Linked DNA regions of Homo sapiens: all the other regions are reported to be linked to region 4. The links are microRNA targets in miRTarBase. Many come from high-throughput screens and were not tested one by one. Region 4 holds a microRNA gene; each other region holds the end of a gene's coding sequence.

Region 1 (7,123 bases), not on the chromosome of region 4:
AGTTATTGATAACAAATCATAGATTCCAGGCAGATCACTGGAGTTCAGGAAAGAATATTTAGCAGGAAAATTGGCCAGGTATGGTGGCTCACACTTGTAATCCCAGCACTTTGGGAGGCTGAGACGGGCAGATCACTTAAGCTCAGGAGTTTGAGACAAACCTGGGCAATATGGCAAAACCCCATCTCTATAAATAAATACAAAATATAGCCAGGCATGGTGGTGCATGCCTATAGTCTCAGCTACTTAGCAGACTGAGGTGGGAGGATGGCTTGAGCCCAGGAGGCAGAGGTTACAGTGAGCCGAGATCATGCCACTGCACTCCAGCCTGGGTGATAGAGCCATACTTTGTCTCAAAAAAAAAACAAAAAACAAAACCGAATATGTATATTTAGTAGGAAAATTATGTCGCATTTGGGCTAGGACACTGCTTTGGTGGACTCTCTTATCATTTGGTTCTTGTACCAGGACACAGACCAACCCCTTAGCTAAAAGGAACTCCCTGTTGTTTTTGCCTTTCCTCTACTGTAGTTGGATTCCTACAGTATTTTTCTGTAAAATAACCATTCCTATTTCTTAAGCATCAATGAAAAATAATAGTATTTTTCTTCTTCCAAAAGCTTGCCACTGCTTGGTTAAAAGAAGGGAGGGGGTGGGGAGATTGATGGGGGCAGGGAGGTTCACGATGCCATTACTTGAGCTGGCAGCCTCTTTGCTGCCCAACTTCAGGGAAATGATAGGAAGAGCAGGTATAATCAGGACAAGAAGGTCCCCAGGTTAGAGGGAGAGCAGTCATTCTGCCTGCTGACTTTAAAATGCTTTCTTGTCCTCTTATTTTAGAATGCAGGTCTGGTGACTGTCACTACCACTCCTCTCAACTGTGGCCCTCGACTGAGGGTGCTCCTGGGCCGCCCCGCACATGAAAAGCTGCTGATGCTGCTCCCCGTGGGGTACCCCAGCAAGGAGGCCACGGTGCCTGACCTCAAGCGCAAACCTCTGGACCAGATCATGGTGACAGTGTAGGCAGGGCCCCCCAAGGGAGTGGCAGGGAGATGGCGCCCCTGCTTTTCCCTGAGCCTCTCGCCTGCTCCTCTTGGGTCTCTTGGCTGCTCTTTCTCCAGGTGTCAGGTCCCCTCATTGCTCTTCTCAGGTGGCCACACTATGTCAAGAAGCCTCTCCACACTCTGTGGCACTTCCAGTCCCATAAATCCTGTTTCTTATCCACTTTGGAAATGCATGAACACTTTACAAAGAACATGCCCGGGTTTTTACATTTTAAAAGTTATTCTAGACAATCACTATTGGCTTTTTTCTTTTATTTTTAAAAAACTCACATAGAGGAGACAATCAGAAATTTACCATAGTCCCAAGAATTCAGCTACATGATGACTCGAATTTAAATTTAGATTAATCAAATGGTCTCCTGTTCTCTGATTTCTGGTGGCTTTTAGACACTAATTTTTGAGAACTACTTTTTTTTTTTTACCAAACTTCAGGGACACTCTGCTAGTTTTGAATAAGTAACCATCAAAGTTACTAAAACATGGCCAGGCGCAGTGGCTCATGCCTGTAATCCCAGCACTTTGGGAGGCCGAGGTGGGCAGATTGCCTGAGCTCAAGAGTTCGAGACCAGCCTGGCCAACATGGTGAAACCCCATCTCTACTAAAAATACAAAAAATTAGCTGGGCATGCACTTGTAATTCCAGCTACTCAGGAGGCTGAGGCAAGAGAACTGCTTGAATCCGGGAGGTAGAGATTGCAGTGAGTCAAGATGCTGAGATGCCACCACTGCACTCCAGCCTGGGCAACAGAGCGAGAACCTGTCTCAAAAAAAACAAAAACAAAGTTACTAAAATGTCACCTTCACAGAACAGGACAGGGTACCCTTGGGTCGCACGGGCCTGGCTGGCATGTAAACGGTCAGTTGCACTGCCTAGTGGTTTGGTAGATCTGACTTGTAAGCAGTTCATAGAAGCTGCTCAATACTCAAGAATCTTGCAAGACAGTTATTAAACATTCATAGCTTGAAATTGCCCATGGTGGGAGAGTTTACATCACAACCACTACAAATCAGCACTTGCTTTCTTCTTCTTAAAGAGAGCTGCTTACCATACATAGCACCCACAGTGTCTCCCTTCTCTTCTACCCCAACCCCTGAAACACACTGACCCCTATTCTCCAGATGACAGCACAGCTGTTTGGGACTGATAGGGTCACAGTTGCCAGGTTGGGAATGCTAGATGTAGTCTTCACCCATCACCTTCTGTCGTCCTCCCAGGGGTGTCATATTTACAGAGGCAAACTCTTACAGCTTGGATGATTTCTCATCAAGCAACTCTACTCACCTCTTTTTCCCCTTTCCCTGTGCGTTTCTTCTTCTTGTCCTCATTTTCCTTGAGAAAACTCTCTCTATAAAAAATTTCCATAGAGTATGTGGCTGATAAACAACAGAAATTTGTTTCTCACAGTTCTGGAGGCTGGAAGTCCAAGGTCGGGGTGCCCTCATGGTCAGGTGCTGGTGAGGACCCTGATCTGGGTTGCAGACTGCTGACTTCTTATTGTGTCCTCGTGGTAGAAAGAGGGTTAGAGCCTCTGGCATGCCTTTTATAAGGGTACTAATCCCATCATGAGGCCCCGTCCTTATGACCTCATCACCTCCCAAAGGACCCCCTCCTAATACCATCACATTGGGGGTTAGGGTTTCAACATATGAATTGCGGGGGACACAAACATTCCGTCCATGGCACCTACTTCATAGGGTTTGGCATGCTGCTCGGTACATGGTTAACATTCATAAATGGTGGGGGCCCTTACTGTGGTAGAAACCATTGTCACTGCAAGGCAGCCCTGCTTGGGATTCAGGTGAACAAATGTAACGTGGGTGGGTGAGGGACTCCCTCCTCTTCAGAGAAGCCCTCCTGTGGCTCAGGGGCAGCTGCAGGGCCAGATGGAGTTGGCCTGCAGGGAGTCAGCCTTACCCCATCAGAGACCAACTTGAAAGATTTTTTTCTCTGTGTAGTTCGTGTTATCAATCTGATCTGCAGCCAGGTTATTTACTTCTGAAGCATTGGAGTTATCGATTGCCATTGCCCCATGGTTCTCACTCTTTGCAGGCACTCTTCAAATTTTTATTTTAAAAATTATAATGCAAACATCTGGCCATCACCTTAACCAAGTGACAAAGTCCTAGCACACCATTAATGGTAGGATAACTGACATTAAGTGTTCCTGCTGGGATGAATTATGAAGTATTCCTTCCAAAGATGTCAATGGAAACTAATCGAGTCTTACACCTAATTTTCAGTTTACAGTAAATACAGAGGATAAAGAAGTTAATGGCATGGTGGAATAACCAAAATGTGTATCATTCTACAAAAAAATAGGCCTGGACTATTTAAGGAGTGAGTGTCACTGTGGGAAGAATAAGAGGGGGACTGTCTTGTCCTTGCTACTCAAAGAGTGGTCCTGGGCCTGTATCATCATTGGGACCACCTGGGCGCTTGTTAGAATCAAAGACTCTCAGGCCTCACCTAGACATCCAGAATCAAAATCTGCATTTTAACAAGATGCCCAGGTGATCTGCATGCCTGTTAAAGTCTGAGCTCTGTTGCAGATAACCAGAGACCCAACAACCAAAGGCAAAGCGTAAGCCTTGATTGGATTTTGGTTTAGGAAAAATCTCATAGGTATAAAAGACAACTGGGAATGTTGAATGTGGATCTGGTGGTAGGTGATATTGTTAGTGATGTGAGTGATGCCTGCTGAAGTACTGAGAGATGAAGCATCATATTGACAACTTACTCCAGGAAAAAAGGTGTGTGTATAGGTGTGTGTTTGGAGAGTGTGAGCGAGAACTAACATGGTAAAATGTTAGGTGGAGCATATACAGTTCTCATTATACTCTTATTTTAAATTTATATTTGAACACAGTCAAATCTGAATGGAAATACATTTAAATAAGCATTTCTTTCAGTCATATAAGTAATTTGCCTAAAAATGCCCTCTAAGTCCATCATTAGGTTAAGCGATTTACTGAAGGTGCAGATATCATGCTTATTTCATTGGGTTGTTTTGGAATGTCCCCCACTTGGAGAGTTTGAGGAATGGAAATGAGAATCGGAGGAGAAATAAGGCCAGAGGCTCACATTGCTTGCAGGGAACCGACTGAGTAATGAAGAAGAGGAAGGAAGCCCTTGGAAGGAACGTAAAATCCATTTCAGCCTGCCGCCCCTTGGAATGGAGGGTCTTCTAGGGACCAGAAACACCAGACACTTCTTCTGCCCCAAGCACACCCCACACTAATTTCTGCTGCAGCATCACGATCAGGGCAAATCAGCACAGCCCCCCAGCCATCAGTGGTGTCTAGAAAAGTAAGGATAATTTTCTTCCTTCTCACTGCAGCCCCAAGCTCTTATTAACCTTCTTTTATGTGTTCATTAAATGCAGTCATGTGACAACTGTGTTCAAAGTTAGAAATAGTGGTCGGGGAGGCTTATAGATCCTCTTGCTGTTCTGAGGCCTTAAAACCAAAAAAATAATGGAATGATTGCATCACTGCGAGGAAGTATACTTAATTAAGAAAGTTGAAAATGGTTTGTGTCTTACTAATAGGACTCACCTGAAGACTCTACTTTGCCAAGAGGGAATTTTTAACTCAAAGTTGTGTCAGCCAGCACGGGGTAGAGCCATGGTCCTCATACTTGCTGGCATCCCTCATCTGGTGGTCTGTTAAAGCACAGATTGCTGGGCCGCACCCTCAGGGTGTGTGATTGTGTGATTCAGTATTGCTGGGTGGTGCCCAAATGCTCCAGTTCTAATGTATTCCCAGGTGTTGCTGATGCTGGTGATTGGGTACCACATTTTGAGAACCATGGGGCATTGGCAATCAACAAATGCAATGCTTGTGACTTGACGTGATAAAAGTTCATTTATTGGGCAGGCAAAGTCCTCTGCAGGCCTGGAAACCCTCCGAGACAATTACTTGCATGGGGTAACCCAGTAATACTGTGGGATGCAACTTCTAGGGCATGGCTGCCTCCTTCCTAGAGGCAGCAGGGGGAGAAAACACTGGAAGAGGTCACCCCAACAATTCCATCGTACCTTGGCCTAGGAGTGACCTCCTCAGTCTCACAACCCTTTGGCTAGAACTAGTCATGTGACCTCACAGGAGGTGGAGCAGTGTCGTCAATGTTATCATCCCCCTGCACCTGCAAGGAAGGAGGCCCAGATGTGTGTAGGTGCTGGATGTCTCTTCCCCAAAACATATAACTCTGGATTTGGAAAACAAAACTGGATATAACAGAAAAGAAAAGGAGGGGAGAAGGAAAGTTGAAGAAATTGGTGAAATCAGAATAGGACAGTGAAAGGCATAAAGATTTTCTTCTGAAACGCTAAGATCGGTTGATATTTGTCTAATACAGCTTTAAATAGAGTATCACTTTGGGCCAAAGAAAATTGATATAAACATACATAAAGTGGAACTAAGATTGACTTCTTCCTAGACATCTCTGCCTCTGTCCACAAAATGGAAACTTCCATCAAGGAGTACTGGAGGACAGTTCAGTATTTCTTCTTATTTGCTCCTCCCTATGAAAGGAAGAGTGACTTCTCTGCTGCATGATATTGGGGGTAAATAGTTATTGCACATTTGCTCAAACCCCAGCAAAGTGCACCCCATTTTAAGCCAAATTTACAAACTTACAAAGATGATCCACCAATAGTTTTCTCTATTTACTTTATTCTTGCTCTGTCACCCAGGCTAGAATGCAGTGGTGTGATTATAGCTCACTGCAGCCTCCAACTTCTGGACTCAAGTGATCCTCCCACCTTAGCTTCCCAGGTAGCTGGGATACAGGTGCACGCCACCACACCCAGGCTAGTTTTTCTAAATATTGGAGTTCCCAAAGAGTATTCAAACTGATGTGATATTTTAAAAGACATTTTGTAAGCATCTTTTAGGAATATCAGTAAGTGGAAGAAAAACACATAGTTATCAGTGGATATTATGCCAGAGAGGCATGAGAAATATAATTTTATTTTGCTAGGTATCAGCAGAGTGCCCTCTTATAATTTGTGTGAAATGGAAACAAAGGTAACATCGTGTTTTCAATTCACACATATATACAAGTAATGAGAGGTCCAGAAGAAATGTGGCTTCAGCTCTGCTGCTACTGTGCCTCCCTTCTCCTGCCCCACTCAGCCCACAAAATAGGCTGGACACTCAAAAAACGTTGCGTTTATCTACCTTTTAGAGAGGGTGAATAGCAGAGAACTGGAGGTGGGAATGGTAAGGAACTCCCAGCAGGGTAGTGGAGGGAATGGGCTGACGCATCTAAGGCTGATGCCAGGTCTGCTCCCTATCTGGGTGGCCTCAGCAAATGACGTCCAGCACATCCAGGGGCAGGCTCAAGGGAGAACAGCCCCCAAAGCTAAGATCCTGCCAAGCTAAATACAGTAGTTCTAATGAAATGTGAGAGGCTATAATCCCATTTGGGAAATTCCTAAAAAGTCATGAGGCAGGGGATTGGTTTATGTTATTATCATGACCTGAGAGTCATGGCTCAGAGCCAAATGTTCAGGATTGAATTCAACAGCATTTAAATGTCTTTAGAGCAGGATGGAAATATGTTAGCAATGCCTGCAGAGTGCCAAGTAAACGCAAAAGCCAATGAGATCATAAAGGAAGTTGTTAGCTAACCTAGGTGGAGTCGCCAACTTCCTTCTACTCTAATAATTAAAAATAAAAATAATACTTGGGAGGTAACTGGAATAAAGGTTCTAAAATCAAAACCCTCTGAAGGGTGAAAACTGGGAGCCTCCTGTTCCCATAGTAACCACAGCACTCAGGGCACTGTCTCCCAGCGCTGGAGTACTGTCTTATGACCAGAGATCCTAAGCAACCTCTGCTCATCTGAGTTGTCCACCATATTGTGGGCATGAGTCCTTGACAATAGTAAATAGCACCTCTGTTCCCTTATTGGGTAAATGATTTTCCAACTCTGGGAATGTGTAGAATTCATTATGGAAATAATGCAATAATTCAAATCCATAATATTGATACTTTCATGTTAAGTTTAGGACTAATCTTGTGTATGCTCCTTAAGTGATTTGAATCTTTAAAAA
Region 2 (7,123 bases), not on the chromosome of region 4:
ATGTTGCAAAATGATTCAGTTCTTGGAAACGTGGATAAATTTCAGCTCAAGGAGTACTTCTTTTTCAACACTAGAGAAAGGAACTGAAACCACTACAAAATAGACTTTTATGTATAGTCATCATAAAGTATATTAAAAGGTAGAACAGAGGATACTAGAGGCTGAGAAGGGTAGGAAAAAGGATGGATAGGGAGAAATTTATTAAAGGATATAAAATTACAGCTAGATAGGAGGAATAAGTTCCAGTGTTCTATACCACTGGATGACTATAGTCAACAATAATATATAGTTTCAAATGGGTAGAAGGAGGATACTAAATGTTCCCAGCATAAAGAAATGACAAATGTTTGAGATGATGGGTATGCCAGTTGCCCTGATTTGATTATTATACATTATGCATATCAAAACATCACTCTGTACCCCATGAATATGTACAATTATTATTTGTCAATTCAAAAAAATAAAATTATTTAAAATTTAAAAACTTTCTTAAAACACTGACATATGGTACAGTAACAAAATAAAGAAAATTTTTCATATAAGATTCAGAAAATTAAATGTTTCATCTTCATTTCCTAACCTACTTGTCCTCCTTTTTTGTCTTCTTCATATTTCTGTAATGGTTCCACCCCCCTCCAATTATAGGAGTCCTGTACTTGGTACCTAATACCTCAACCCCTTCTTTCACTTTCTCCTCTCTTTCTCCACACACCCAGTCATCACCTAAAGACTTGGTTGCTCAAGGACTGTTAGAATGTTTTTCCCTCACTGTCATGAGTCCCTTATCATCCCTCACATATGCCATTACATTGTTGCAGCTTTTCTTTTATCTACCTCTGCCTCTGTTGACTGCTGAGAGTGGTTTTCTCAAAGCATATTCACTACCATGTTCAAAGAATCTCTGATAGCTACATGTTATACATTCTACATTGCATTCAGAGCCCACCATGGTGATATAACCGCACTCCTCATTGTCTTTTCCCATTCTCCCTTTCATGTACTTTTGCTTGAGATGAAGGGCTCTCCCGCTTCAGTGCTTTTGATCAACCTGAATTGTCCCTCACCTTCTCTTTCTGCCACTTCAGCATCATATTTTCAAGAAACTTTCTCTAAACAACCAGTTCTTAACACTTTGACCCATGATACCACATTTTAGAGCACTTACCCTTTCATACATATGTGGTCCTGACCTAATAAAACTAAGATTTTTGCAGCCACAATTTATGTCCCCTCCCAAAGTATCTAGCCCAGTGGCTTCAACACAGTAGAAATGCAAATATTTGCTAACTCCTTGATGTTCTCTTCCCCTTCTTTTTCAGCAGGACCACCACCCTACGGTCACGACCACGAGATGGAATACTGTGCAGACTTGCCTCCTCCATACTCCCCCACCCCACAGGGTCCAGCACAGCGTTCTCCACCCCCTCCTTATCCTGGAAACGCAAGGAAATAATCTATCTCCCAGAACAGAACATGTGCCAATGGGCGATCTTGCCTGGAATAAAATGCCTCTACTCAGAAACAGGCAGGAAAGAATTGCTCCAAGGAATACTTTTTGGGGTCAGATAATGTGTCAGGTGGAATATCCCTGCTAGGAGATATAGGATTTCTACTCTGCTCAAAGCTGACCCCATCTGGAGTATTAATGTTTGGTTCTATGGAACCACATTTTAAGAGATCTGCTGATCCACCTAAGCACATTCAGGGAAGAGTAATGTAATTGACAAAATATCTGATAATCATGTTGTTTAAGGGCTAGGTGAAGAAAGTTTCAGTATTGATCCTGGAAAAAAAGAAGATCTAAGTAGGATGGGAGAATGATTTGGCCCACACAAGGAAGCAACTTTATTCTATATAGCTTTAAAAGTCAGAACTAGAATTGTTCATTCTTTCATTCATCAATAAATGTATTTTGAGTGCCTAAGAGTTTACTATGTGCCTAGCACTGTTTGAGGTCCTGATGGAAGTTACAGGACGGGTACTCTGGTTTTAGTACAAGAAAGAGCAATGACTAGATTGCTTTGTGAAGCTCTTGGTAGAGACACGCTCCAGAAGGGATAACAAAATCAAATAGTAGATGGGTTCATTGGGCCTCAGAAGTTCTGCTCGTATTTTAGGTGGGTGTGAAGTGAATTTCTATATGTCCAGGAGTGAATACAACAGAAAGAGTTGGATCTTATTTATTTAATTAGGGAGTTAAAACAAGACCAAAAAGACTCAACAGCCGCTTGAAGCCAAGAACTCTTCAATGCCAGCTACTGCCACCTAAAAATCATCTGGCTTTATAGTGGATCAGAATAAAGGTTATTCTAACTGTGGGGAGAAAAAAAAAATTGTATCAAGTTCCACAGGTAGCAGACACTTCACTTCCAAGTAAAAGATGAGAAATCAATTATTCCCACAGGATTTTAGGTCAGGGAGCAAAAATCTCAGAACTTGACCATGAAGATACACAACAGACTCGCAAAAATAAAGTGGGAAATGAAGTTCAGATTCCCTTCTGTAGATTTCCTTAAAACTATTATTTTTTTCTTCTTCGTAAAATTTTGATAATCTGTTCTCTTAAAAAAGTTAATGACACAATTAAGATACTGACATCAAATTGTTGCCTTTTACCAAAATGCAAATTTTATGAAGTGCCTACCTTTATATGTATAAAGCATTTAATAAATAATTCTAATGTGCCATATTTTGCTGTGAGTGACCTTAACATTTATATTTTTATATGAATTGTTTCATGTATTTATAAAAATTGTATATTGAACATTGGAAATAGATGATTAGATTTTTGTGTCATTTTACAATTAAATCTAAAATGCTTAATCCAATATCATCATCAAAATTCAGTGAAATCCCAAAACAGTGCCAAGAATTTTGCTGAATGAAACAATCAAACAAAGCATTTTAAGGTGTAAGTTATAGTACCTGTACTTGCAGATAAGAAGCTTACTATATCATTATTATAAGTAGCATATATTACTTTCAAATACCTATATTAGAAAGATATTGATCTGACTGAAATATAACCTACCTGCCAGTAAGGTCCAAAGGCTGAATTTGTTTTGAATGAGTTCCTTGATCTTTAAGCACTGATGATTTTCTTATATATGAGGATGCAAAGCATTCAAGAGTTTCAGCCTGTTCTGGTGAGGGGCTCCCTGACTTACATAAAGTTTTCAGTGCAATTTTAATAGTACATATGCTTTAATTTATTTTTCTTCTGCGTGTGGTCAGACCCAATTACACTGTGGCTAAGACTCTCAAAGTGCCAGGGTTTCTGTGATGATTCTGAGAATGCTGAATACAAATATACCTTATATTCTTTAAGGAAAACGGAAAGGAAAGATCAGCAGAAATAGGGTTTTCTCATCTTCACCATCAATAAACATTTATTGCGTACCTCCTATATTCTGCAAATTTTCCCCAAATAGAAGCCAGTTCAGTCCACACCATCTCTTCTTTGAGTTGTTTATGGCCTCCCTTAAGGCATTTTACAAACCCATAAGCCTACAATAGATGAGTATTTTTACTATTTGTATTAAGTGTCATAATAGCATCAATGTGCACATTACCAGTATAGACTGTTGGAGTTCACTGATTGTTTTCATAGATGATGCTTCTTGGGGAAAAATAGTATAGGATGTGAAAGTTTTGAATTACGGTTATTTAAAAACTAACATTTGCTATGGCCAAAGTGTTTACAATAAGCAATAAAGTGAAAGAACCTATTATAACACAGATTATATTTTCATTGTCTTGTGTCCATTTTTTTCACCCTCTATTTCTGCTGACTTTGCCTCATTCTTCTGTACAGGAAACACAGGGCTGGAGCCAGACAGACTTTATTTTGAATCCTGTCTCCTGCCTGTGTGATTTGAAGCAGGCTACTTCATCTCTGAGATTCAACTTTCTGCTCTGGAAAATGTAAATAATATTATCAGTCTCATCGCATTCTGCAAAAACTGGATGAATATATACAAAACTCTAAGTATAGTGCCTGGCACATAGAAAACGTCCAATAAATATTAGCCCAAAATAAATTAACAAAACAACAATATAATGAGAACAACCTCTAGAACTATATTATCCAACACAGCAATCATCAGCTACATATGGTCATTTAAGTTTAAATTAATTGAAATGAAATTAGATGAAAAATTTACTTCATCTGTCTCATTAACCCCATTGCAAATGCTGCATAGCCTCATGTGGCTAGGGGCTACCTACGTTATTGGGTAGTGCCACTCTAGAGAAATCTATGCAAAAACGCAGTGAGATAGCAGGAAGTCATTGAAAAAGAGACCACTCCAATCTCCTCCAGGAGAAACTATGGACTTTGTCAGCTAATTGTGATGTCTTTCACTTATTTGTGTGGAGAGTCCATTCCCATGGAAGCAAGACAATAACTTGCATGAGAACCATGAGCAGCGAGAGGCTAATCTGGCCCTCTCCAGAGCCATGGGCAGGAAAGCTGTTGCAAGAGCTGAAGGGCTGATGATAGGAGAGAGACCTTAGACCTGATGTTAGAGCTGGTGAAACAGAGCCACAGCCTGTTCTCAGAGTCTAATCAATTCTGCAGCTGCCTACCCAGCTTCAGAAGCCACTACAGGAGCATGTGGGGCTACCTAATCTTCCTAAGGTGCAGGGCTGTAGGCTACCCTTCTGTTTTTTCATAATCTTGTTCCCACCACCAAATGACGGCAGCACTCATCATACATCCACTCTACTTCCAACTTGTCCTTGTTTAACCAAACTCATTTTGCCAACTTTTGGTTGTAGGTAAAGTAGGGACTGGGACACATAAGATTGTATATTAAGCTCATCAAATAGTGGAGCTCTGGGTACTATTGTTTTAATTTTTCACTTAATTAAAACAACCTAACACCAGAATGCCAAAGTCACATGGTCACCTTGTTAATCACCACAGAGGCATCCAAGAACTACCATATTCTCAATCAAAACCTATCTGAAATGCATAGTTTTTATTCTCTGATTTGGGGCCAAGCTGCATGGGATATGGCTGAACTTGTGCAAGAGCAAAACTCTTTGGTGCAACTGTACTGTGTAGTGTGGTTCAGTATAAACATTGTCAGGACCTCCAGAAAAGGAAAGTGACATGATTAACTATAAAGCAACCCACAGGTGATTCTGATTTCCAGCCTACTTAACCCCACTCAGGCCTCTAACATCCCTCTAATGCAGGGGACAGAACCAAGGCTTCAGAGTAAGGGAGACTTTGTTTCCCCTCTCATCTCTGTCATCTTCTAACTACATGTACGGAGCCAAATAACAACATTTCCATAACCTCAGTTTCATTCAAAATATATGAATAACACCATCCTTGCCACGTGGTTGCAATGATTATAAACAATATATGTAGAACATCTGTTACAAAGATCCTACCTGGGTTGGTGACTCTGATAGTTGCAACTGAATATACATATTCTCTTTCCTTTATGCCCCACTCCGAAGCCTCACCACTTCTATAAACAGGTGCATTTGTTATCCATTGCTGTGTAACAAATTTAACTCAAAACTTAGTGGCTTGAAACATGTATTATCTCAGTTTCTATGGATCAGGAATCTGAGGGTGGCTTAGCTGGGTCTTCTGGCTCAGGGACTGTCACAGGCTGCTGTCATCTCAATGTACAACTGAGAAAGTATCTGATTCCAAGCTCACTCCCATGCATGGTCATTGACGAGATTCAGTCCCTCCGAGGCTTTTGTGCCAGCTTCATTTTCTCACTAGCTATTGGCCAGAAACCACCCTCAATTCCTTGGCATATGGGCCTCTCTGTAGGACAACTTTAAATGTGTCAGCTTGCTCCCCCAGAGCAAGCAAGAAGAGCCATGGAGTGGAAGAGAGTGCTAGGAAGACAGAAGTCACAGACTTACGAAATCCAATATTGGAAGTGATATCCCATCACATTTGCCATAACCTGTTCTTTAGAATCAGGACACTAAGTTCATCTCACATAAAAGAGGAGGGAATTACACAAGGACACAGAAACCAAGAGGCAGAGAGCTTTGGGGGCCATCTTAGTAGTTGGTGTACCATAGCAAAGATATTTTATCTTACTCTCCTTAAGTTGATTATTTAGAGTTTAGGCAATGTAGAAGATAATACCTTCCCTCTAATAAGAATGTACCAACTCAACAGCTGAAAGAATCCCAAGCCATGCTTGGCTGTGATCAAATTGCTTTTATTGAACCAACAGGAGCAGAATGGAGCTGGCAACATTCAAGGACCACATTAACTAGATAAGTGCTACATTCCTAAGAAATACTGAAAAGATACACACAAGGCTTGTGTTTCTCATGAACTTCATTTATGAGCTGCACTAAAGCCCATCGTATTAGGCAGGGAATGAAGTACAGCACATACACCACATACCTTTATGGACGAGTCTTAAAATAGTCCCAGTTCTAACCTTTGTTTCAACTCTGTTCCTAGATATTTAATCTTCATCAAGAAAATAATTCCAAGACAAGTTCCCAGATGAGTGTTCAGTGGATCAAGTTGCTACCTAAGCTAATCCTGAATGCCTTCCCTAAAAATAAACATCCAATCCAAGGAAATGGTTGGAACTGGGGGAACATGTGTTAGGAATATTTGCCTTCTCTGGAAGCATGAAGGAGAAATTGTTTTTTAAAAAAATTTAGACTTTGATTTCTATTTCTGCTCTGCTCTCACTTTTTTTTTTTTTTTTTATGGAGTTTTGCTCTTGTTGGCCAGGCTGGAGTGCAATGCCACAATCTCAGCTCACTGCAACCTCCACCTCTGGGGTTCAAGCAATTCTCCTGCCCCAGGCTCCCGAGTAGCTGAGATTACAGGCGCGAGCCACCACACCCGGCTAATTTTTGTATTTTTAGTAGAGATGGGGTTTCACCATCTTGGCCAGACTGGTCTCAAACTCCTGACCCTCAGGTGATGTAACTGCTTCGGCCTCCCAGAGGCTGGGATTACAGACGTGAGTCACCGTGCCCAGTCTCTGTTCTCCTTTTTCTAACCCAGTCATGAATAGCTTTTGAGTGTGTATCACCTGTCATTTCTTTTTTAATTGTTGTTTGTTCTTTCTTCAGAGACAGGGTTTCATTCTGCCACCTAGGCTAGAGTGCAGGG
Region 3 (7,123 bases), not on the chromosome of region 4:
GATTCCTGCTGCTCAGACTCAAAAGAGTAATATACAAGCCAAAGTGCCACATGTATTTATAATTGGGGATATATCGTTCTAGTGACTTGTTAAAATGTTGGTCTCTACCCACAAGTTAATTCAGCAGCCCTCTATGGGTCACAGCTGACAGTTCTAAAACACTGGTAATGGAGCTTAGTTCTTTCTAGTACCTGGGCTGTGAATCCCTTCAAAGTGGGGGGATGGGGAGCCTGGAATCTTAATGAAGAGATTAAATAGTTTTGTTGTGTATTTGATGTAGATTGCTATAAAACCCAGAGAACTTTCTCAGTTCATCTTTCTAAAGATTAGTACAACTGTCATATTGCATAAGCACTAACAAATTCTTTTACTCCATGAAGACCACCATCTCTACATAAAAATGTCAACTTTCTTCAAAATTACAACTGTTTGTTGGGGATTGTGTGTTCACAAAGAAATTGAGGAGGCACTTTTATCTGGGCAACACATCTGGAATCACAAAAGGGGCAGCTTCTGCATCTGTAGGTGTATGGCACTGGCCTTGTCCTTTGATTTTGGGATATATTGGTCCACCTTTGGCTTGTGTTAATGTTGTCAATAGTCCTTATATTCCCTCCTAAGTGGATTTACTTAATTCAACAAAATATATTTAGTTTCTGATTGGAACACATGCTTTGTGTTCCTTCCTGAGATTAATGCCCGTCATCTCAAAGGCAGAGGCACTCTGTGCACCTACCTAGAGGATACTAAGTTTTTATTAGGAGATAATAGGACTGTTCTAAATTCAGTCTTCCTTTTTCGAATGGCACAAAATTGCAAAATACATTACTTGTAAAGCTAAACTTCCCTATTTGTCATATTAGAAATGCTTATAATTTCCATTCGACTTGTATATGTAAAATATTATAGGTTATAAGAAAATCTAAGTTTCTCTTGGAGCCCTGAAATAACTTCCTTCAGATGTGATTATCTGTCTGAACTTAGAAGCAGCAATACTGAGTGGTTTATTTATTATTATTATTCTTTTTTGAGACAGAGTCTCGCACTGTCGCCTGGGCTGGAGTGCAGTGGCGCAATCTCTGCCCACTGCAACCTCTGCCTCCCAGGTTCAAGCCATTCTCCTGCCTCAGCCTCCCGAGTAGCTGGGATTACAGGTGCCCACCACCATGCCCGGCTAATTTTTTTGTATTTTTAGTAGAGATGGGGTTTCACTGTGTTGGCCAGGCTCGTCTCGAACTCCCGACTTTGTGATCTGCCCACCCCGGCCTCCCAAAGTGCTGGGATTACAGGTGTGAGCCACCGTGCCCAGTCAAGTGGTTTATTTTAACCTGTAAAACAAAATAATGAAGACTACAAGCTTCTGAATCTTAGTAGTTCCTTTACCAGCCAACACACCCACCCCCCTTGATTGCTTATTAGGAACAAAGATGATACCGAAAAGGGGACCCTGCTTGGCCAGGCCTGTATTTTCCTTCCTCGTGCTTAAAAATCTTCCTGAGATGTAACTCAGTAACATGTGCAAAAAGCAGCGGAGCCTCTTCTTGGATTCTCAGTGCTACTTCAAGGAGATGATGGAGTCCCAAGGGCCAGGGTTATCCGGGAGGTGGATATAGCCCTGAGCCATTAGGGCAGGTAGGCTTCTCTTCACCCTTTCATTTAAACTGCAAGTGAAAAGTCACACGACTGCCATTTCCACAGCAAAAATCATAAAAAGCCAAATCATCACTTCTGTCTTGGTTTCATCCTCAATCTGTTTTACTCTGAAATTACTTTATTGCCTCCCTCCTCACTGATGTAGGACAGTGTTCAACATCTTAAAACTCACACATCCTGATTTAACATTTTCATGTTTAATATTTCAAAATAATGTAACAAACTAAAACCTAATTTTAGACTGTCTTTAAGGCACACCACCTTCATATTCCTTTGTATTTAAATCCCCTGTTCTCTTAACAGGTTCTGGATAAAAGCAGTCTCCAAGTCCCAAATGAGTGGTGCCACCAGTTTTAAAAGTAACTTGCTTGGCTCAGTGCAGAACAGATCATTTGATTTAACACAGAAGGGAAATAAAAAGGCGTATTAAATTTCAGGCAGATTCGCTTCATCAGGTCCAGTGGTCACTACACCCCTGTTGTACTATAGGTCTATGCTTCCCTGGTTTCCTTCCCATTGATGTATCCAGAGGTTGGCAGGGAGCTTGAGGAAGCAAAGGATGGGGGCAGGGAGGAGGGTCACCTGCCCACTGCAACTCTTACCCATGTGAGGAGTAGGTTTCACTAGTCTATTATTAGTTTTGTTGAAGGACTTCTGCAGGGGTTGTGAGGCAAGAGCTTGTGAAAGGGCCATTGTTGTGGGAACAGACACCACGGGTACTTGTGGCAGAACTTAGATTGTCCTGGGAGTAAATTCTGTCATGACCTTTACTCCTCTTGGACACTCTTTTCGAGCATCTTAAATCACAGAGCTCTGAAAAACATCCTTGGGCTTGATCCCCAGCAGTCCTGAATCCTGAAAGTCCACAGCTGGACAGTTTTTTTGGTTTTTTTTTTTTTTTTTTGAGATGGGTTTTCACTGTGTTGCTCAGGCTGGTCTTGAACTCAAGCAATCCTCCAGCCTCAGCCTCCCGAAGTCCTGGGATTACAGGTGTGAGCCACTGTGCCTGGCCTGGACAGCATTTTTTAATAGGCTATTTCCTGGGCCAGGATGAAGACTTGTTCACTGCCTAGATTTTGTGTAATCTGATTATCCCATGTCCTAGCAAATTGCCTTACAGCACCCAAATCAAATACACCCATTTTTTTGGTAAAATGCCACTCTACCATTAATGTTGAATCTAAATGGTTGTATAAAACCTGCCTTATACATCCATGCTCCTAGTGACTCAATTTCCTAGCGTATCTTACTTTTTGACCATGACCAGCAGTAAAAAATTTACATCACGATTTGCTACACTTAATGCATATATCTATGCACAGATCTATACTGCAATGCAAAAATGCACCATCACAAAACTGTAGGTGACGTGCTTAGATGTTCTAATGCATTTCATTAAAAAATTGCAATCACCCACAAAAACTGATTTCAAACCCTGCAGTTTGAAAGACAAATGCTACCCTGTCTTAGAGAATATGGGTACATAGCCAGTGACAGTACAATCTGACATCTTTTCCTCTAAGCCTAGTGCTTGGTATAGTGTTTATATAGCAGCTAACTGGTTTTTTTTTTTTTTTTTTTGCTTTGAGGTTGCTGAAAGGGGAGTCTGCTTTACTGTGGTTACGTTAGGACTTCTCGAAGTTCTGTTTCTTAGGCGGTCATATGCCCTACTTTTAGTAGCAACATGACTAAGGTCTCAAAATCAATGAATACTTTGCAGAGTTGGTGGCATTCATTAAGCATTTACTAAGAAGCACCTACGTGCCAGATTTGAGTTTGATTCTAGACATGTAGAATCTTTTGAGTGCCATCCAACCTCTTGAATACTTTGATGGCTATAAAACAACCCTCAAATGTTGAACCAAACTAGAAGTCTAGTTTCTGACTTCTACACATTGGTAATGTAACTCTGTGGCAACACTGAGCAAGTTTATTCCACATATAGTAAGACTCCCCTTCCCCTTCCCATTCCATGAGTCCTTAATCCCATTTGCTTTTTTTTTTTCTTGGAGACAAGGGTCACTCTGTCAACCAGGCTGGAATGCAGTGGTGCAGTCATGGCTACTGCAGCCTCAGCTTCCCAGGCTCAAGCAATCCCCTCCACCTGTCTCCAGAGTAGCTGGGATTACAGGCATGCACCACTACGCCCAACTAATTATTAAAATCTTTTGTAGGGAGGGGGGTCTCACTGTTACCCAGGCTGGTCTCAAACTCCTGGGCTCAGGTAATCCACATTGGCACCCTAAGTGCTGGGATTACAGGCATGAGCCACTGCACTCAGCCCCATTTGCTCTTCCAAAATTCTGGTTTCTCCAAGACAGGGTCTTGCTCTGTTGCCCAGGCTGGAGTGCAGTGGTGCAATCACGGCTCACTGCAACCTCCCTCTCCTAGGCTCAAACAATCCTCCCAACTCACCCTCCCAATTAGCTGGGACACAGATACATACCACCAGTCTGGCTTTTTATTTTTTTGTAGATCCGGTGTCTCACTATGTTGCCCAGGCTAGTCTCGAACTCCTGGACCTAAGTGATCCTCCCACCTCTGCCTCCCAAAGTGCTGAGGTTACAGGTGTGAGTCACCACACCCGGCCGAAGAGAACATTTTACTCATAGTAGAGGCTAAAGACTATGATAAAATAAGCATTTACAGAGAATGGAGACTCATCCTGTGAGGCCTTAATTTTTCTCTATGTTCAAGGCAGTTAATTGCTCAGAGTATGGGTTTGGAGGATCTGTACCACAAACTTAAAAGTACCAAGCTAACAAATCACTCATTTTGAAAGTCTACTACAAATTCATAGGCCATCTACCCAAATGGATTTTCTCCTATCAACTCTAGCTGCAGAGCAACATGGTGATTCAGAATAGGTGCCTGGATAGGAAGAGGCATACCGTGAATCTAAGGACTGTATTGAATAGTAAGGCTAACAAGAGTCAGGCATCTGCAGGTGCTGATGAACTAGAGACAGGAAGGGACCGAGTTAACATTTCAGGTGGCCAAGGCTCTCCTTGGAAGCTGTAAACCAAGACTGAAGGCTAATTTACTCTCTCTGTCCTGCAAATCTGCTTTGATATGGAGCAATACCCATGGATGCTTAAGTAGCTAGCTACTATATCGGCTTTTTTTTTTTTTGTCCCTCAATTAAATGCCTTAAGACCTGACATTCCAAGAGAAAACAAAAACCATACTTTGGTTTCTAAGGATGTATGACTGGGTCCCGGCCTTCAGAGGATGGCAGACAGATGGGAACACAAGTATAAGTAGACTAGAGTATCCCATAATTGTCAACTCTGGCAAGGTAAAGATGAAGCTGCTTATGTGGACAACTCGTGGGGTACCTAAGTAAATCTGGGAGCCAGGTACGTGCAAAGTGGTCAGTGGTAGAAGCCCTCATGAAGGCAGGAATGCTGCAAACCTCCACTTACTGCCTTCCAGGACCACTTAAGTCATAGTGGTAAGAGCTGCTAGAAGTAGTCGTTACCAACTTGATTACCAGCAATACACAATGATGTCAAGAAGACATTCCACATCCTTCTGTCATCACTAGCTCTCATTTCAACCACTAAAATAGGTAACAGCTATAGACAAAAAAAAAGGGAGACATGAAACATTCATGGCTGTTCAAGTTAGAAAACTATGGCAGCGGCTATATTAACAAAAATACAAACGTGTACACTAATTACAACATTTATCTACAGTCATTTTACCAGTTGTGCAGCCTAAACTGCCATTATCTTGTTTAGTCATTCCTAAGATGCGTTATTTCTGACATCGAAATATCCTGAAATTGGGAAACTATTGACCCAACCCCAACTGTGTTAGAACTGCATGAACACCTAAGATGAAGGACCAGCATCACAGCAGCACATCAGGCCAACAAAGGCAGAAGTCCAGCAGCAGGAGAGGGCAATCGCACGAGGACAGCATCGTGAGGTCAGCTCACCGACACTCTAGGTGTGCAGGCTTATCCTGATGACAAGAGCCATGGACCTCACCATGTGTCTGAAAACCGCAATGTTGCTACTTAAATGCTAAGCCTTTAATGGTGCATTAATAGATGGTTAAGTAGCATATTAGCAGCTTAAATCTACATAAGTCAGCTGTGTACTGACTGTACCTCACAGTAACAAATTCACCAAATCTGTATCTTTTCTTCTTTGTAACAATGTTAAATATTGGTATATCTCAGTTCTCAGGTGTGATTCCAGCAGCTATGGTGAGACCCATTGCTGCTCCTGAATCTCCACTTTCATTTGCCTTCACTGGTGTCACTGTCGCTGTCACTGCTGCTGTCAGTATCACTGTCACTGGTCAATGCAGTTAGATTACTTAGGGCTTCCCTGTTAAGAAAAGAAAATGGAGGATTACACTGCAATTCAACTGGGTGCTGGGGTTCTCGGTGTCTCTGACACTCACCTATAGCCTGTCAGTTTTGAAATCAGAAAAAGGGACCCTGCAGTTGCATTAAACTATATTAGAAACAAAAAGCTTCTAACAGTCAAATCTATAGGCTTTCCTGACTTGCATGACAAATGAAATAGTCATTAAATTACTACATTCTGACTTTTTGAAAGGAAATAGAAGGGATAGAAAGCTATGAACATTTTGAATGGGCAGATGGATGAAAGGTCTCCATTTTACAAACTATGCTTCATGGTGACCACTTACTTTTGTTCCTGGTTGATTGCAAAATCACTCATTACTCTCTGGGTGAGGCCCTCACAAATAGGTAAGCTGAAGGCACTTGCCAGCTCTACTACTTCAATGGCCTGGGAAGGGCTGTTAGACACTTTTGCACTGTCCATAAGCTCATTCAGCAACTCACTTCTGTAAAAGAAAGGCAAAGTGTGAACTTTCTCCAGCCCCTTCAGTAAAACATTTATAGGCAAGATCCAGTGTAAGTTCAGTAACAGAATTCCCAACAGTATTTCTGGAGACAAAGATGAAGTCTAACATTTATTTTTACTTGTTTCCAGTGAGGTTAGAAAGTCTAAAGGGCCAAATGGATTATCAACATTCATTCAGTATGACTTCATGATGATCTATTCAATGTAGCCCCAATGTATGATGATCCGTCAACACAGATAAAAAACTGCTTGCCTCAGGATGCCCTGGATAGTAGGGAGTTGACGGTATGCTTGCCTAACAGAAGAGTGCCCAAATGTGGTGGCTAAGGCTGGTGAAGAAATTCCAAATGTGGCTACTTCCAGGCTGTACCCAAAGAGAGCTGGCTGATTTCAACTTACCTAGGAATCTTATTATGCTTCCTGAAAAGCCCCAACATTTTCCTGCTCAAGAAAGGAAAAAGATTATGAATACTATTAGAAAAACAAGGCAATCAGACACTATAGCTGTCTTCTCTCTGAAATCAGAGACTAAATGCCCTTTTCTTAACTATACTGTAAGCTCCCAAAGACACACATCTGTGGGCTCTACTAGCTCCCAGCCCTGTGTGTACATGAGAATCACC
Region 4 (7,123 bases):
GTTAGTGTTTTGTCTGAAATACAGTCAGCATCAGCACTGTACTTGCTTAACCCAGATCCCTGAGAGAGATGCCTGAGGTCTGCATGTTTTAACAAATTCCTCAGCTAAAATGTAGGAAATACTGGCTTATTTGTATATTATAAAATTAACATTCCAGGCTTAATACTTAAGTAATATGTTGATCTGTTCAGCAAACCACTGTGTCACACATTTACCTATGTAATAAACCTGCACATTCTGCATATGTACACCTGAACTTAATAAAAGATGGAAGAAAACAAAAAATAACATTAGTATTTCATATTAACTTTTGTCCTTATTGCTCCTCTTTTCCCCATCTCTCTCCTTTTGTTCTTTTTTTAACTGAATTACAAATAGTTTTTCTTAGAGGAAAATGTTAATATGCATCAAAATAAATATAAACATATTTTAGCAATTTTAAAATTGTTTTTAATTGGAAGATGAGGCAAAAATTCTGAAGTAAACATGTTTGTGGCTCTAAAAAGATCATACTTTCCAGAGTCATCTGAAGGGCTTGTGAAAATACATCTCTGGGCACCACGGCAGAGTTTCTGATTTCATAGGTCTGGGGAGGGCCCAGAACCTACGTATCTCACACACATTTCCAAGTGATGCTGATGCCACTGGGCCAATGACCACATTTTTATATCATTACCCTGGATTTCCCTCTCACGTTCCATTTCTCTCTGCTCTCTTCAGTCTCCCTCTCCCTTTTACAGGTAATTTTCCTCTTTGCAGGATATTTGGTCCCCTGGTTCTCCCCAAGTCATAATAGATCTTTTTGTCTCTCCCCCTCCCCATTTCCCATTAATGTTAACTCTATATTTTCAAACAGTTTGTAGAACTGATTTTACCTATGTTCAATGACAAAGACACTCCCTTAGAAGTATTGAGCTTTTCCTGAGACCTTAACGGAAGACATGATCCTGGATGGTGTCATGTTAGGCATCACAGACCCTCAACAAAAGACAGATTTGGGGGTGTTGCTTTGTTGGAGAGTGTGTTTTGTTTTGTTTTCTGAAAGATGGCCTTTGGAATACTTCCTCAAGTCCTTTCCTGGTAATTATGTGATTCACAGAATCTCTAATTTGAACAGTTATTAAAGAATATCTTCATTTGTTTGTGCTGCTGTAGCAAAATACCATACACTGTGTACTTTATAAAGAACAGAAATTTATTTTCTTACCATTCAAAAGGCAGGGAAGTCCAAGATCAAGGTGCAGGCATGTTCGGTTGTTGGATGAGGGCTGCCTCCTCTGTAGGGGAGGAAGGCTGTGTCCTCTCATGGCAGAGACCTGAAAGCCCTTTTCAGAAGGGCCTTATCCATTTATGGTGAAGGAGCCTCATGACCTAATCACCTTCCAGGGGCCCTGTCTTTCAATGCTGTCACTGTGGTGATTTGGTTTTAACATGAATTTTGGAGGATCTGACATTCAAACCATAGCAAAGAACCTACACTCACGTAATTATAGCACTCTGCATTTCAAATGTGTAAATTTCTATAAATGTTTCTAACAGTCACTTTACAAACAAAATATGTAAAACAGAGAAAAAAGAAAGGGGCAAAACTGAGCCTCATTAAAAGTTATGGTTATAACTCTCTTTTCGTGGGGATATTAATTTTAGTAGAATGAGTTAAATAAAAGTTTAAGTCAAAAAGAGAGGCAACAGCTGCCTCCAGTCAAAGTGTCTGGTTTCTAAATGATGTTTTAAATTTCCAGCTTAGCATGTATTCTTAATTTTTATATCATTTTTAATATGTTAATGGCTACTGTTTTTAGGTTGTTTTCTTAACAGTTCTGCAACTACCTTTAAGATGTTTTTTGAAGTCTAGGTGGCAATATTTTGTCTTCAGTTAATATAATTGCAATATTACGTTAGAAACTAGCACAAAATTATATTCCTGAATAATCTCTAAATTGCTAACTTTTCAGGGATTTATATTTTCTGAAAATTAACATTCTTGAGAATTTCATTAATGTCCCAGGCAAATCACATAAATGGACCAAACACATGAGACAGAAAAATTAAAGTTGAAATGAGGTCTATAAGAGATTCTCAAATATTTGAAATACCTCAAGTCAAAAGATATGAGTATATAAAAACTTCATGTAATATAATTTGATTAATTTTCCAGTAGTTTATGGAGTATGATTTTGGACTATACCACACTGTAAGCCTTAGGTTTTGTAATAACCTGAACTCTTGATATTTAAGAAGATAAATTTCATGTTTGTTGATGAGGAAGCACACACCACTAGAATGAACGCTTATTGGAAAAGCATTGTAACACTGAGAAAACACTAGCAATGAATGATTTTTCTTCATAGAGAAAGGAAGCAGCAAAACAGTCCATAATGAGAGCTCAGCCAAGGGAAACAAAAATCATTGAAATTTCTTAATAGATTCTTTAATACTGATTATTAGATAGAAGCATGTTTTACACTGTGGGAATCCATAAGATTTCAAAGAAAAAGATGCTGTTTTACTTTAAAATGTTGACCTTGAAAGGCTGTAGCTTTTTAAACTCTACTTTTGTTCACTTTCTTTCTCTTTCATTTTGTTCTTGGTTGTCTGCAAGAAACTTGGAGGAGAACCTAGCACATCAAAGGATTTAGTATACAAAAGGGTAGCTTGTAAGTCAGTTAAGAAACAAAGCATTTTCTATTAAATGCTTCTAGGATAACTCACTATTTGAGAGAAAATTTTCAAGTTAGGTAAGTATGCAAATTCAGCTGCGTTATGAACTTGATTGTGAAAAAGCCATGTTAGTCATCTAGAAAACAAATACGTAAATAGAAGATTGCAAAATGGCAGAGAAGTTTATAAGCATAAAATTAATTTTTAAAAATTCTAAGGGGAGTATCAGTAGATAATACTTCACATGACACAAAACTTTGGCATATCTAACACCATCATAAAAAAGATGCAAATGAGAAGCTGGAAAAATTACTTGCAACACGTATTCCAGTCAAACAACAACAAAAGAAGATGAGCATACTGAGATAAAAGTGGAAAAAAATACAGACAGACAACTCATAAAATGAAAAAAATACAAACATTTAATGTGAGTTTAACTAAAATGTACTGGTTTTGATGTTGAATAAACTGGGAAAATTAATAAGATAATATTGATGATTAGTGTCACTGATTATATTAGACCATTCTTGCATTGCTATAAAGGAATACCTGTGATTGCATAATTTATAAAACAAAGAGGTTTAATTGGCTCATGATTCTTCAGGCTTTATAGGACCCATGGTTCTGGCATCTGCTCGGCTTCTGGGGAGTCCTCAGGAGCTTACAATCATGGTGAAAGGTGAAGAAGGAACAGTCTTTGTCACGTGACCAGAGCCAGAACAAAAGAGAGAGAGTTGGGGGTAAGGTGCCATACACTCAGAAGAAGAGCTCACTCATCACCAAGAGGATGGCCCAAGCTATTCATGAGGGATCTGCCTCCGTGATCCAAATACCTCCCAAATCTCCTGTTGAAGTGTAATCCCCACCTCCAGCATTGGGGATTACATTTCAACATGAGATTTGGATGAGGACAAATATCCGGACTCCATCAGTGGTCAAGAACTTTTTATTTCTGGAGAGCTATGTTAAAATATATGTTAAAAGTCCATCCTCTTTAGTTCTGTAATTCCTAATATAGGAATGCATCCTAATAAAATATCTCAGATGTATATATATATATATATGTGAATGACAATGTTCAGCAGAGTTCTTTTTTAGGGTACAAAGACTATCCCTTTAACAGTTTTTACATAACTAAAATGTTTCCACTAAAAATCACAATAAAAATCGTCAGTGTTCTTTTCACATTTCAGGCAATCCTGCTGGTTTTCATATTATTTTTAAAACTTTATAAGGAGAATGGTGAAAATAGTTCATATATAACTTAGATGCTTGTTCTTTCTATATTGTCAGCTGCTTTTCACAAATGATTAGCCTCAGCTCTGGACAGATTTCAGCTTACATCAATATGATGTAAGTGATACTATGTTTTCTCTATAGCTGTGGTGATTTGCAATATTATTTTTGCCTCCTATTTGTCATGTAGTACCTGCTGGGCTGCCTCAACAGATAGTATTTGTACAATGGCATTTTTGTGTGGAATGAGTCCATCTTCTGCATACATCCACATGTTATGAATATACTAAAATGATCACAGGTCATACATAAAAATCTTGTCATTTAAAAAAAATCTTACAAATATTAAATTTAGAGGAATGTCTTAGATTTTGCTTCAGTCTATATGGATATACTTCATTCATTCAGCAAGTAATTTGCTGAGCACTTACTATGTATGATGTTTTCATGGCTCTGGGGATATAGTAGATGATCAAGTAGCTTAAAAGTATCCATGCTAGTGGTGGATATAGGTAGTAAATAGGAAACAAATATAAAAATAATTATGGATTGGGATATATGCTATGAAGTAAACAAAGGCAGACTATCTTGCTAGGATGGAGGTTTTGTCTTTGGACAGAGCTTTTAGGCCTCCTTAAGTAGATGACTGAGCTATAAAGCATAAGACTGAGCCTGCCTCATTAATAGGCAGGAGAGAGTGTCCCAGGGTGGAGAGAGAACAAGGTAAAGGTGCCCAGGTGGGGATTTGAGGGTTGGAGCTAAGGGAGCCCATATTGCTGAATAAGAGTGAGCTGTGGAAAGAAGGCATGAGTTAGCTATAGAACCCTTGCTTCTTATTCTTACTCTTGGGTATTAACAGTCATCTTCCTCTTGAAAGCTGAGAATAGCAGTTTAGGCAGATTGTGAGTTTGGCTTTGGTTCTTTATGGAAAGATACCTTGGAGTCCCATGGCCACTAGATGAAGGGATGTCAAGCATTGTAACTAGCCAACTGCATCCCTACCATGGATAGTTTCCAACATTCTGTTGCTCTTAGAAAGTCCTGAGACATCATCCTTTCCTTCAGGTGATGCCCGTTCCTCTCTCACATGGCAGTCAGAGCTTACGGAAGATCTAAAAAAAGGAAAAAGATGTAATTAATTCATCACATCTTCCAATCATCACACACACATTGCAATGGGAGCCAAGCTGGTGAATGGTTGGCTACTGTCCTGCGGGGCCATCTTGGAAGAGCTGGAAGTCAGCCTTGCTGGCCTTTTATCTGGAAGTCCAGATTAGACCACTGAATTGCACACATCTAGGACATATAGTGTGAATATTGAGGGTTGTATGAAAAGTCAAAAGCAGAAAGTTTGAGGAACATCTAAGATTACCAAATAATTTGCTGTTTCATTAATGTACTTTGCTTGCTTAAATCTCCGTTTTCAAATTCCCTTTCTGCCATCTGGGGCATTCTCTTTCCTGACTGCCTACCCAATTGCTACTCATCTTTTTTATCTGAAGGCCTGGATCGGTGAAGTGATTCTGAAAGTCATACAACTTGTTAATACCAGAGCTATGGTCTCGTTTCTCTGCTCTTGAATAATTATTCACTATGCAGGTATTCACCCATTCCTTCACTTGCTGAGAGTCAGCCAGCCATATGCTAAGCACTGAGAGAACTAACATGGTTAAGACAAAGTCTCCAGCATTAGGCTTCTCTCTCTCTGGTGGGAAGATCTTGTTAAGCAAATGAAATAGAACATAAATGAATGGATAAAGCTCTGGTCAGGGTGCCGTGGGAAAACAGAGGTGAGACTGAGTAACACTGTAGAAAAGGTCCAAAATTCATACTTTTATTGGAAAATAAGCAGGGTTAGCCAGGAAGAGGAACACGTTTCATGGGCAGAGGCCATGTACCTAACAGTTCATGATAGAAAGAATTGTGTCCTTTTCTGTTTATTAAAAGATTTCATTGTGCTTTTGTTTCTTTGGTTATTTGGTAGCAGTATTTGGTCTCTTTGGTTCTTTAACTGATTGTGCTGGGTCCTTTACTGTACGTATTAATGAATCGTCGTGATGACAAGCAATCTTTTCAATGACTCTTCTACCTACATCAGAGACTCCTGACATCAGCTTGTATCAGGAGGCTGTCTCATCCACTGTCCTTCTCTGATGGGGTAATTCCTCAGGACCTACTATGTTATCTATGTTGACCCAAATTTATTCTCAGTTCTGGCTTGCGCACCTGGAGAACAGGCCTTTATCCCTTGATGCCTGCCGGATGCTTGACACCTTTGAAATTAGGCAATTCCCCTCGAGGCTTGTTTTAGAGAGAGGGTTTTGGAGCCTGGGATAATTTGAATAATTTCATAATGTAAAAAAGAAACAAAAGTTTATGTGACCCAGTCAGTGAATTCCTCTTTAAAGGGACATGTTTTAATCTAAAAGAACGTATGAATCCATTAAAGGTTACAAGTAACTGATATGTCACACAGTTACTTGTTAGAATATATTTATATAGGCTTTTGTTTTAACCAGAATATATAGTTTTAACTTACTTATTATGACATAACGTTTATTATGACAAAGTTTCTGTTATTTACATGAACATATTGGCCCCATTGTGGAACTATTTTTTTTTCTAATAGGTCTAACATGTTAATTTTAAAAATTGCTATTACCAACATGCAGATTATGGTATTACTGTCCAGATTAATTGCAGAGACCATTTTCAGTTATCTTTACCAAATAATTGACTATTTAAGCATGTTTATGTTTATATATACTCGCATTTTTATAGCAGTGGGTGTTCTTTCAGTTATATTCCTAATGACAATTCATTTTGTCAGATATGTTTATATTACTTTGTAGTAAACTAACTTCTTTTGAAATACAAGAATTCTTTTTAAATAAGAAAATTCAGTTAGGCTTTGTATTAGTTTGTTTTCACACTGCTGATAAAGACATACCTGAGACTGGGTAATTTAAAAGGAAAAAGAGGTTTAAGGGACTCACAGTTCCACGTGGCTGGGGAAGCTTCACAATCATGGCAGAAGCAGAAAGGTACGTCTTACATGGCAGCAGACAAGAGAGAATGAGACCCAAGCGAAAGAAGTTTCTCCTTATGTAATCATCAGATCTTGTGAGACTTATTCACTCCCAGGAGAACAGTATGGAGAAACCACCCCCATGATTCAATTATCTCCCACCGGGTGGCTCAGACAACACAGAATTGTGGGAGCTAC

The links. Region 4 holds the annotated microRNA hsa-miR-1267 (CCUGUUGAAGUGUAAUCCCCA, at 3,506-3,526, shown strand). A microRNA usually pairs through its seed, bases 2 to 8, with sites in the 3' UTR of a target mRNA and lowers its output. Matches are read on the target gene's strand: a 7mer-m8 pairs with bases 2 to 8, a 7mer-A1 pairs with bases 2 to 7 and ends in A, and an 8mer does both.
Region 1: the mRNA of IYD is a reported target of hsa-miR-1267. Seed matches in the 3' UTR shown: 7mer-A1 at 1,807-1,813, 7mer-A1 at 2,447-2,453 and 7mer-m8 at 6,588-6,594.
Region 2: the mRNA of CYYR1 is a reported target of hsa-miR-1267. Seed matches in the 3' UTR shown: 7mer-A1 at 2,158-2,164, 7mer-m8 at 2,218-2,224 and 7mer-A1 at 2,454-2,460.
Region 3: miRTarBase lists PTCD3 as a target of hsa-miR-1267. Seed matches in the 3' UTR shown: 7mer-A1 at 3,983-3,989.

What each region holds. Positions count from the first base shown.
Region 1 is chr6:150,397,215-150,404,337 of GRCh38, forward strand. IYD (iodotyrosine deiodinase) reads left to right here. Exons shown (of 5, transcript NM_203395.3): 5 at 841-7,123. The coding sequence ends at 1,023. Among named protein-coding and RNA genes, the nearest start is that of IYD, 32 kb to the left of the region's middle. RefSeq lists a silencer at 6,399-6,693.
Region 2 is chr21:26,462,831-26,469,953 of GRCh38, reverse strand. It overlaps CYYR1 (cysteine and tyrosine rich 1), which reads left to right. Exons shown (of 4, transcript NM_001320768.2): 4 at 1,320-3,738. The coding sequence ends at 1,453. The region is part of intron 1 of CYYR1-AS1 (CYYR1 antisense RNA 1); the gene reads right to left. The region is part of intron 1 of LOC107985474 (a long non-coding RNA gene); the gene reads right to left. Among named protein-coding and RNA genes, the nearest start is that of CYYR1-AS1, 60 kb to the right of the region's middle.
Region 3 is chr2:86,136,339-86,143,461 of GRCh38, reverse strand. PTCD3 (pentatricopeptide repeat domain 3) reads right to left here. Exons shown (of 24, transcript NM_017952.6): 22 at 6,900-6,941; 23 at 6,322-6,480; 24 at 1,305-5,993. The coding sequence ends at 5,903. Among named protein-coding and RNA genes, the nearest start is that of SNORD94, 4.0 kb to the right of the region's middle. RefSeq lists a silencer at 2,002-2,296.
Region 4 is chr13:107,527,620-107,534,742 of GRCh38, reverse strand. It overlaps MIR1267 (microRNA 1267), which reads left to right and starts at 3,495; the gene lies at 3,495-3,572. All of the region lies in intron 1 of NALF1 (NALCN channel auxiliary factor 1), which reads left to right. LOC112268110 (a long non-coding RNA gene) reads left to right here. Exons shown (of 3, transcript XR_002957493.2): 1 at 1-7,123.